Regions from separate parts of the Homo sapiens genome. Here region 2 is linked to region 1. Evidence: fine-mapped expression QTL. A gene starts in region 1. The other region holds a variant in brackets. All regions are shown on one strand. Distances are from middle to middle. Region 1 holds the start of FBXO36 (F-box protein 36). Region 2 holds the start of GCSIR (GPR55 cis regulatory suppressor of immune response RNA).

Evidence for each region. PIP is the estimated chance that this variant, and not a neighbour inherited with it, causes the effect.
Region 2: its variant is fine-mapped to the expression of FBXO36 in visceral fat (GTEx, PIP 0.92).

Annotation. Positions count from the first base shown.
Region 1 is chr2:229,920,193-229,925,564 of GRCh38, forward strand. FBXO36 (F-box protein 36) reads left to right here and starts at 2,311. Exons shown (of 4, transcript NM_174899.5): 1 at 2,311-2,417. The coding sequence starts at 2,322. TRIP12 (thyroid hormone receptor interactor 12) reads right to left here and starts at 1,817. Exons shown (of 42, transcript NM_001348323.3): 1 at 1,688-1,817. RefSeq lists enhancers at 135-234, 872-1,372, 1,373-1,873, 2,530-2,589 and a silencer at 1,310-1,699.
Region 2 is chr2:230,885,974-230,891,345 of GRCh38, forward strand. GCSIR (GPR55 cis regulatory suppressor of immune response RNA) reads left to right here and starts at 573. Exons shown (of 4, transcript NR_038238.1): 1 at 573-996. RefSeq lists an enhancer at 1-5. The variant T/TA (reference allele first, on the strand shown) is at 2,890.

The DNA.
Region 1 (5,372 bases):
CCCGTATTTTTTGTTTTGTTTTTAAAGAGGAGACTCTGAGACTCAACTTGCTAGGTCTTTAAAAAATGAAATGCCAAAAATACCTAATGAGACTCTCGAGAGGAACATAAAGTTAAACACATCACTAAAGGGCCTACAAAACGGAGTAAAGCCCGGAGATCGGGTGATCTGGCAGCCCAGGCAAGATCGAGGACCGCGACTAGGAAAGGAGACAGCAGGAGAGCAGTTAGACGTCCACTTAGAACGGATTCACTGCGCTATTAACCGTACCCGCCTCCCCCCGCACCGGCCCAACCTTTACACACAAACACATTCCCTCCCCCAATTAACTAAAGAAGCAATTAAACTATGCCCACCACCAGACTCGATGCTTAGGCTAAACCTCCCCCAAAGTAAAACAGCATTATCAAAAAAACACAACATTTGTCTTAAGGGTTTGGAAGCTGCCCCTTCCGTTATCTCCTCACCACGTAAGGTAACCAATTCCCTCCTGTCCCCCACCAGGAGTTCAAAGTGTGATTTCCCCCCGATTTACATGTGTTTTTATGTTTTTCCGCATTTTTCCGTCTAGGAAATGAAGGATTTCTTATTCTGAGGAAGGGAGAGACGCCGAGGAAGACAGGATTTGAGGTTTTACTACCTTCGTTATTCGAACTCCCCTCTAACTTGTTCCTGTACTAGAAACCCACTCACTATGGAGAAGGAAGGAGAGGGGCTGAACTGATGGACAAACGTTGTAAATAATAGGTTTTATGTAATCCACATATAAATAAATTAATCGCCTGACTCGCTCTGAATGCTAATACGATTGGGGTGACAATTGGCCCACCTCCCTCCCCCAAGTCCTAGTTAAACCCACCTACCACCAATTTCCATTCTGATCTATTTAAAAGGATACTCTATTCCTCTCAGTCAAGTTTCTCGGCTTCTTTAGGCCTCCCTGCATGCCCCCCTCGTCATCATCCTCCCTCAGCCTCAACTTCCCACGGCTTAAAAAACTGCCCCGCGCAGACCCCGTCTCCGGGCTCGCCCTCCCTCAACCGTCCCTCGCCGTCCCCCTGGGCAGGAAACCCCTTACTGCGGTCTAAAGTCTCTCTGGCCTCTCCCTTCTCTGACCCTCGCTTCCCACAACTGTTGTCACTGGAGCTGCTTCCTAGTTTCCATTTCCGGGCCGTCCACGGCCCCGGAGCCTCCCCTTTCCCGATTTCCGGGCCCCTCGTCCCATTTCCGGGGAACCCTTGCCGTCTTCACACCCCCCACCTGCACTTCCGGCCCCCCACTTTCTCTCTTCCCAGACACCCTCCAAGCTCCAAAGCCCACTTCCGGCCCCCCTTGGTCCCCGCCGAGCTCCCCAACACCCGCAAGCCTTACCCCGGTTCTGTGAAGGGCCCTCCTCATTGCGGGAAGCCGGAGGAGGGACCCAGCGACCCCTACCTCCCGCCAGGCCCCGGTCCCTCCGGCCGCGGCCGCCCTCGAGCGTCTCTCCCGTCCACCCCCGGCCCGGTCCTTCCGCGGCCCCGCCGCCGCCGGCGCCGGGAGCAGGCCAAGCGGGGGCCGAATCGCGGCGATGACACAACCGGGCTTCCTGGGACTTTCTGTTCCAGCTCCTCCCCCCGCCCCCCCAACCCCTCAGCTGGCCCCCTCCCCCAAGGCTTGCCCCCGCCGCCCAGAGCTGCGCCCCAATTACCTAGTTAGGCCCCAAAGTCTCCGGTCCGGACTCGGTGGCGCGGCAGTAACTTCCACTAGCTCCCCCCACCCCCCCCAGCGGCGCGGCGGCGGCGGCTCCGGGTTCCTTCAATTATCAGCTGAGCCGCAGCACCGCGCCCGGCGTGCGCCTCCGCCCGTGCCGCCTCCCTCCCCGCCTGCTCTGACACCCTCGGGGAACTACTTTGTCCTCGGGCTCCGGTTACGGGCTCGTCCGCGGGACCGGCACCGCTGCCTACTGGCGGCCCATCACATCGCCCCTCCCTCCCACGCCTCCCGGCTCGACTCTCTCAGCAGCCTCCGATCTCCGCCCGATCCCTTCGAGGGACCAGGAAGGGGACTGTGGAGATCTACTTGGTATCCCTCCGCCGGGGTCACCCCCTCCCCTCCGTGGTAGCAGGAACTAATTCCCCCTCGGGTCACCCGGGACCTGGAGCTGGAAATTTCACGGATCAGGGTTCCCTAAGACCCTTGGAAGAGGGGACGATCGCCCCAAGTTAGAAATCCTTCTGCCAGCTCATAAGCGTGGTTCAATTTAAACTAGGGTTTTGGCCCCTTGACCCCAACCAAGCCCCGCCCCTTCCTGGTTGTCTTAGCGACGGCGGTGGCGTCCCAAGATGGCGTCGTGGCTGCCGGAGACTCTCTTTGAAACTGTAGGACAAGGCCCGCCGCCTAGCAAAGACTATTACCAGTTACTGGTCACCCGGTCTCAGGCAAGTGCGAGCCGCGGTTTACCCTCTCTCCTAACTCCCTACCTGGCCCGGTTGGGGCCCGGGACGCAGGCTGTGCTAGGCCAAGAGCAACCGTAGCCCGCCGGAAGCGCCCAGTCCCGGCTCCGCGCCGGGAGATTTTCCTCGTCACCTCGGCCTCCTCGGTCCGACGGCCCGCGTGTCCCTGCTCTCCCCGAGCCCGGCTAGTCCCTGGCAAGCCTTCTCTGCCTCCCCGCGGTGCCGCGTGCTCCTTTCCCGCCACCCCGGCTTCTTACCCGTAGAGTTTCCTCCGCGCGAAGAGGAAAACGGGCGTCTCCGGCTTGCGTGCGGCCTCACCTCAGCGTGAGAAGGAGGGAAAGAACGACTCAGCCAAGTGTCCCAAGGAGGAGCCGGCTAGGGAGGGGAAAAGGAGATTGCCTCTTTTCCAGGATAGGAATTAATCATGGAGAATTTTATAAATCTCTTTGTGGCCTTTACGCGTGCCACGGCCACATCAAAACTTAGTTATTTCTAGTAGCAACTGACGATTGGGAGCTCTTACCTTTTGGAGTCCCTTCTATCCCATTGAAAGTGTGCGGGTGGTGGTATAAAAATGTTTCAGCTGCTCTGCGCTTCAGCCCCACCCATAATGACATCTGCTCCACAACAATAAGACCGAGGATTATATTATCTCCAAAGTAACCATCGGCCTATTTTTATGCCTACTTTGGTTATTGAAGGTGGGCTTTTGGATGATTTACTGTGTCCATGAAATTCTCAACTTGAGCGGGGCCTCCATTGGGAAGACGTTTCTAATCCTGGCTGAGTTTACGCCTGTCACTGAGTTATTCATGCACCCTGCCCTTTCAATAGATACTATTCCTATAAAATGAAATTTAGAAGTTTGTATATATTTGTTTTGGTGTGCATATTGATCATTCCCTCAGTTTTTCCAGGAGCCCTTAAACAAAATAGGTAATGAGTTAATTTTTTTATATTTTTGAAAGCATCTTTTAAAATATAAATGTTAATATATATTTTTTAATTTAAGATTTAGAAATATTACAAATGTAAAATCAGCCTGTCCAAAAAAAATTTTTTTTAAAACAGTACTGCTCCTTGCGGAGCAGGGCTAATTCATAGGCAGTGGGCCCAGGGTCAGACTCAAATTTTTAATTAAACTGTTCTTAGGGGGTTTTGCACATTTAGTGATGTATGAAATACTGAAAGGTATCCTTTTCTGTACTTTTTTTTTGGTGTTGTTTTTTTTTTTTTTTTTTTTTTTTGAGACGGAGTCTCGCTCTGTCGCCAGGCTGGAGTGCAGTGGCGCGATCTCGGCTCACTGCGACCTCGTTTCACCATGTTGGCCAGGATGGTCTCGATCTCTTGATCTCGTGATCCGCCTGCCTCGGCCTCCCAAAGTGCTGGGATTACAGGCGTGAGCCACCGCGCCCGGCCTTGTACATTTTTTAAACGGATTATTGATTTTTCCATTTGTTTTAAGATTTGTTTGTTTATTTATCGAGAGGGAGTCTCCCTCTGTTGCCCAGGCTGGAGTGCAGTGGCGCGATCTCAGCTCACTGCAACCTCCGCATCTCCTGGGTTCAAGCGATTCTCCTGCCTCAGCCCCCCGAGTAACTGGGATTACAGGCGTGCGCCACCACACCCAGCTAATTTTTGTATTTTTAATAGAGACGGGGTTTCGCCATTTTGGCCAGAGTGGTCTCCAACTCCTGACCTCAGGTGATCCAGCTGCCTCGGCCTCCCAAATTGCTAGGATTATAGACTTGAGCCACCGAGCCTGGCTGGCTTTAAGATTTATGATCCTAACATTTCTTCACCTCCTAACATGAGTGGTCAAAAATATAATCTGTTCTAATCTTACATGATTTTCTATTTTTATCTACCTCAAGTAAGTTAGAATGTTTTAATTTTTACAGCCTTTAAAAATTTGTCTTTTTTTGCATTTTCTTTCCCCTGAAGGTCTGGTATTTTACAAGTATGCTTCATTTCTCTCATTTGTAAGCCTCACCAGGCTGAGTATCTTGTTACCTTTTTATTTTAGTAAATTATCCTTAGGAGTGCTCCCTGGCATTCGGCTTCCTAAAGAATAATTCTGTTGTTGGTGTTCTTCAGACTTTGCTCTCAAGTCTAACTTAGGCGCATGCCTTCCTCTAACTACTCTTTTTTTTTTTTTCTTTGAGGCAGCGTCTCGCACTGTCGCCCAGGCTGGAGTGCAGTGGCTCAATCTCAGCTCACTGCAAGCTCCGCCTCCTGGGTTCACACCATTCTCCTACCTCAGCCTCCCCAGTAGCTGGGATTACAGGCGCCCGCCACCACGCCCGGCTAATTTTTTGTATTTTTAGTTGAGATGGGGTTTCACCGTGTTAGCCAGGATGGTCTCTATCTCCTGGCATTACAGGCGTGAGCCACCGCGCCCGGCCCTAACTACTCTTTTTTAAGAAATCTTTCCCACCATCCCTTCAGTGTTCTTAATTTTTCTTTTTCTTTCTTTATTTTTATTATTTATTTATTTATTTTTTATTTTTTGCAAGTGAAAAACTCTCCTTTATCTCAGGTTCTGTCAGTTACATATATATAAAATCCTAAATTCTGATCCATTTTCTTTTTTAAGCATGCTGAATAAATCCACTACACTTCTACCAGTGAGAGTTAATCTCCAAGCTAATTAATTCACCCTCTTTTTAAAGTAAAATTTGTTGTAAAAAATGGCATGCCAAAAAAATATACTTTTCAGTCAACTGCCTTGAGAATATGCTATTTTCTAACCACAAGACAATTTTTCTGAGTCTCAGCACAGGAAACCAAACATCCAGTAAGAGGTGGCCTGACATAAATAAGTACTAAAAGACTAGCATTAAAATATGTTTTATAAGATAGATTTTTTTTCTGGAATGACTTTCTAAAATTATTTCTTGTACATTTCCTCCCCTTTCTCCTGTCTTTATTTTTTTAATG
Region 2 (5,372 bases), 970 kb after region 1:
GTGTTGTCTTGGAAACCAGAGCCTGGGCGGTCTCCATGGAAACCGTGCTCAGCCTTCTGCCTGAAGGAGTTACCACCCACTGGTGCTGGAGTGTTACTTATCAGGGACCTCAGAGCTCCAATAACTGCTTAGGGAATGATGATGGACTGGTCCCTGCCCACCCTGGCCATGTCAGGTGTGGGGCCCTGGGCACCTCCAGCTCTCTGCCTGGGAAAGAAAAAGAGCCCATTTCCATGGGACGTGCCCTCATGGGGAGGCACAGCAGACCACCCAAGGCAGCACATGCAGTGTCCCCGAAGTAAGGAGGGAGTCCTGTGTCCCGAGGTCCCGGGGATCTGGACTCTGCCATTGTCCCCTGGTGCATCTGTACAGCTGTGGTGGGCTAACATCATCTCTGGGCTCCAACTTGCCCTTCTGTAAAATGGGGAGTTTGGACCAAGTCATTCTGAAGGTCTTTTCCAGCTTTAATGACACGTGTTTTGCATGTGACCTGGCAGCACAGGGTTCAGAGGAGGGAGAGATCAGAGTGACTAGTGCAGGCTTCCTGGGGAACCATTTGAGCTTTGAAGGTGGGGAAGAGGAATGTCAGAGAGTGGGCAAAATACAACAGGAAAGGTCCAAATTCACCCTCTGAGGGCCCGGGGCACGGGGGCAGCCTGCTCTCCTCCTGGGGCCCTGTTCCCTGTGGGGACTGGAAGAGAGGCTTTGAGTCTAGGGCCTGGGGCAGCCAGGACTGACGGGGGTGCAGTCCTAGAAGGGTCGGCAGTCACGGTGGCCCACCATGGCATCTCCGTATCCTTGCTGCATGCTGCACCCACTCCAGCTGCCAGAGCACGGAGGCAGAGACGTGGGAGCCGATGAAGGTCGCACGCCAGCCTCCCACCTGTGAGACAAAGGGCCCTGTCACTGGAAGCCACGTCCAGCCTGGCCCCGCAGGAGCCAGGGCTCTGCGCCTAACGGAGGACTGATGGGAAAGGGAAGGCTGGCAGCAGTGAGGTAATGGGGTGGGGGGTGGGGGTGGGAGGCAGGGGGAGGTGGGGAGGACAGGGAGGGGAGGGAGGGAAGGGGAGGGACTTTAGCCAGCACGCTTGTCCCACACTGAGCGAGTGCCCACAGTGTTCAAGCAGTCAGTATGCCAGCAGTTTTTCATTGATTACTTTTGTTCGTGTCTCGCGTTATCTCTGGGGTGAGTATGAATTTCATAGCCACAAACTCAGGTGTCCAAAGTATCTTTATTGGTATCTTTATTTTTCTATAATAGTGTGTTTTGTGTAATAATCTAGTTTTCAAACCTTCCCTTAGTCTAGTGGCAGAATGTGTAATCTTGATATTTTCTAGGTAAACTCGGTCATCACTTCAGTTTGCCCTTTTCAAAGATATTAATTTTTGCCCTCCCTTCCCCACCAGGGGCCAATCATCTGAATCACGTTCCTGTATTCAGGATTTGCCCCTCCAAAACAGTTTTGATGGGAGACACCAGCCACCTACTATTATGCAGCCATGCACCACATAACGACGTTTCAGGCAACAATGACTGCACATACCACAGTGGTCCCGTAAAATTACAATGGAGCTGAAAAATTCCTATTGCCTAGTGACGTCACAGCCATTGTAAGGTCAGAGTGCAACACATCACTCATGTGTTTGTGTTGATGCTGCTGTAAACAAACCTACCGCACTGCCAGTCATATAAAAGTATAGCCCATACAATTATGTGTAGTACTTAATACTTAATAATAATAAACAACTATGTTGCTGGTTTACGTATTTACTACACTGTGTTTTTAATTGCTAATAAGAGTGTACTCTTTTTAGTTATTAAAAAAAAAGTTAACTGTAAACAGACTCAGCAGATCCTTCAGGAGGTTTCCAGAAGAAGGCATTGTCATCATAGGAGGTGACAGCTCCATGCATGCATTGCCTCTGAAGTCCTTCCAGTGGGACAGGATGTGGAGGTGGAGATGGTGATACTGATGGTCCTGACCCTATGTAGGCCTAGGCTCATGTGTGTGTTAGTGTCTAGTTTTTAACTAAAAAGTTTAAAAGTTAAAAAAAAAATTTTTAATAGAAAAAAAGGGGGACTGGGCGTGGTGTAATCCCAGCACTTTGGGAGGCCGAGGCAGGCGGATCACCTGAGGTCAGAAATTCGAGATCAGCCTGGCCGACATGGTGAAGCCCCGTCTCTACTAAAAACACAAAAATTAGCTGGGCGTGGTGGTGCGCACCTGTAATCCCAGCTACTTGGGGGGCTGAGGGAGGAGAATAGCTTGAACCCAGGAGGCGGATGTTGCAGTGAGCCGAGACACACCATTGCACTCCAGCTTGGGTGACAAGAGGGAGACTCTGCCTCAAAAAAAAAAAAAAAGAACAAAAGACTAAGGGTACAAAGAAAATACTTTGTGAAGCTCTATGTGTTGGTGTTTTATGCTAAGTATTATTATAGAAAAGTCCAAAGGTTTTTAAAAATTGAAAAGTTTATAAAGGAAAAAAAAGGTACAGTAAGCTAAGGTTACATTACTATTGAGGAAAGAAAAAATCTTCCGTAAATGTGGTGTAGCCTAAATGTACAGCGTTTACAAAGTCTACAGCAGTGGTCGGTAATGTCCCAGGCCTTCCCATTCACTCACCAACCACTCACTGACTCACCCAGAGCAACCTCCAGTCCTGCAAGCTCCATTCATGGTAAGCGCCTTACACAGGTGTACCATATTTTTATTTTTCCTACCATATTTTGAACGATATTTTTCTATGTTTAGATACACCATTGTGTTGCGATTGCCTACAGTATTCAGTACAGAAACATGCTGCACAGGCTTGTGGCCTAGGAGCAACAGGATAACCCGTATAGCCCAGGTGTGCAGTAGGCTATGCCATGTAGGCTAACATGTA[T/TA]AGCCCAGGTGTGCAGTAGGCTATGCCATGCGGGTTTGTGTAAGTGCACCCTACGATGTTCACACAATGAAACTGCCTGACAATGCATTTCTCAGGACATATCCCTGTTGTTAAGCTGAATCTGTTTTTCCCAGTGCCCCTTGGGGCTGGAGTCAAGCATGTGACCAGGCTCAGCCAATCAGATGTTTCCTCTCTGTATTAGTCCATGTTCACACTGCAATGAAGATTCTACCTGAGACTGGGTAATTTAGAAAGGAAAGAGGTTTAATTGACTCACGGTTCCACGTGGCTGGGGAGGCCTCTGGAAACTTACCATCGCGGCCGAAGGCGAAGGGGAAGCAAGGCACGTGTTAGTCTCACATGTGGCAGGAGAGAGAGAGAGAGCACGGCGGGGAAGTGCCAGACACTTATCAAACAACCAGAACTCATGAGTGACGACTCATGGGAGAAACTGCCCCCCGATCCAATCACCTCCCACCAGGCTCCTCCCTTGATGCGGGGATTACAATGTGAGATGAGATTTGGGTGGGGACAAAGAGCCATACCATATCACACCCAGACCATGCCATAGGGACAAGTGACTCAGGAAGGGGGACAGTGAAAAATGCATCCTGGTAGAGGGGACAACAGCAACACAGAGTCTCGTGGGCATCAGGAAGGTGGTGGCATCATCTCCACATTCTGGAGCCCGCGGTTCCCTTTGTGGTCTCCCAATTGCTGAAGTGGTTTCTCCAGCCCACCCAGTGACTCTGAGCCACCCAGTGTCCCGTCAATCAATTCCTTTCTTCCTAAATTCACCAGAATTGTTCCCAGTGTTTGTGTCACAGTTTTATTGAACACGGGAGCCTTGTGGGGTGTAATCCGAAAACAATTCTTTCTCCCACTACCTTTTCAAGCCTGGTCGGTGGGTTGGGTTCTCCTCTGACCTTGGATGAAATTGAAGGTAGGTTTCTTGGTTTTTCTGGTCCATCCAAGATAATAAAAATCCCTTGGGTAACTTTTATTCACACAAATCCAATTTCAGTAATTACAACATCTAACTATCAAAACAGTTGAAACTCCAGATGGCATTTGAAGTTAAAACCACTCCCTTGCCCCATCCCAGACCTGCCCACATGGGAAGCCTACAAGGCGCGTGGGGAGCTTGGCGGGTTTCTCCTCCATGCCCCTGCCTCATGCTTCTACTTTTCCTCCCCTTCACTAGGCTCCTCGGCGCCTCCAAGTTTGGGACAGTAGCGTGAGGGCTTGGCGTCGGGCGTCGGAGCAGGAGAGGTCACTAGTTGTCTTAGTCGGTGTGTGTTGCTGTAAAGGAACACCTGAGGCTGGGGAATTTATAAGGAAAACGGGCTTATTTGGTTCACGATTCTGCTGGCTGGAAGACTGGGCATCTAGTGAAAGCCTCGGGCTGCTTCCACTCGTGGCAGAAGGCGAACAGAGCTGGCGTGAGATCACACGCAGAGATCATGTGGAGAGAGAGGAAGCAAGAGAGACACGGGAGGCAAAGGTTCTTTTTAACAACCAGCTCTCGTGGGAACTAACGGAGTGAAACTCACTTGCCTCTGTAGGAGGGCAATAATCTATTCATGAGGGTTCCAACCTATGACCAGAACACCTCCCATTAGGCCCCACCTCCAACATTGATCCAAACTGTAGCACTAGCATCACCAGTTCACCCTCCCTCAGGTGGATGCTCCATGAGAGTCCCTGGTCCCCGTCCTCACCACTAGCTGCACCTCAATGCAGGCAAACTCTCCCTCAGCTTCATTTTCTTGGACTGGATCTAAGTAACTCAGACCAGCTTCTGAAACATTCACACACCCTTTGATGCTACAGAATCCAGCAGAATGGGTTATTTGCTGGCACACACCTCTTCTTGTCCTGTGCTCCAAGCAACAAGCAGGCAGCTCCAGCCACAGCCTCTCACTACTTGCTTCCCCAGGGGCTTGGCCCCCACCCAGTCCACAGGGCTCCCTTCCAAATTACTCCCAGGCCCCATGTCCAGGTCTCCCAGCAGTCTCAGTGAAGCCCCTCTCACTAGGCATAAGGCAGAGTGGTGGTGCGCCGGACTCTGTGATCATTCTCTCCTTAGAAATGTTCTCTCTGGCTGGCACTGTGGCTCCCCCCTGTAATCCCAGCAGTTTGGGAGGCCGAGGCACGAGGATCACTTGAGGCCAGGAGTTCAAGAACAGCCTGGGAAACACAGGCCATTTAAATTTTTTGTCTGTACAAAAAAATTTAAAAATCAGCTGGGCATGGTGATATGTACCTGTAGTCCTGGCTACTTGGGAAGACTGCTTGAGCCTGGGAGCTCGAGGCTGCAGTGAGCCATGATCTCACCACTGCACTCCACCCTGGGTGACAGAGTGAAACTGTCTCTAAAAAAGAAAAAAAAAAAGAAATGTTCTCTCTATTTGGCCTTCAGTTAGCAGCCAGGAGTGGAGGATGGGCAAGAGTTGCACAGTTGGTTTGAGGTCGCCTCCTTT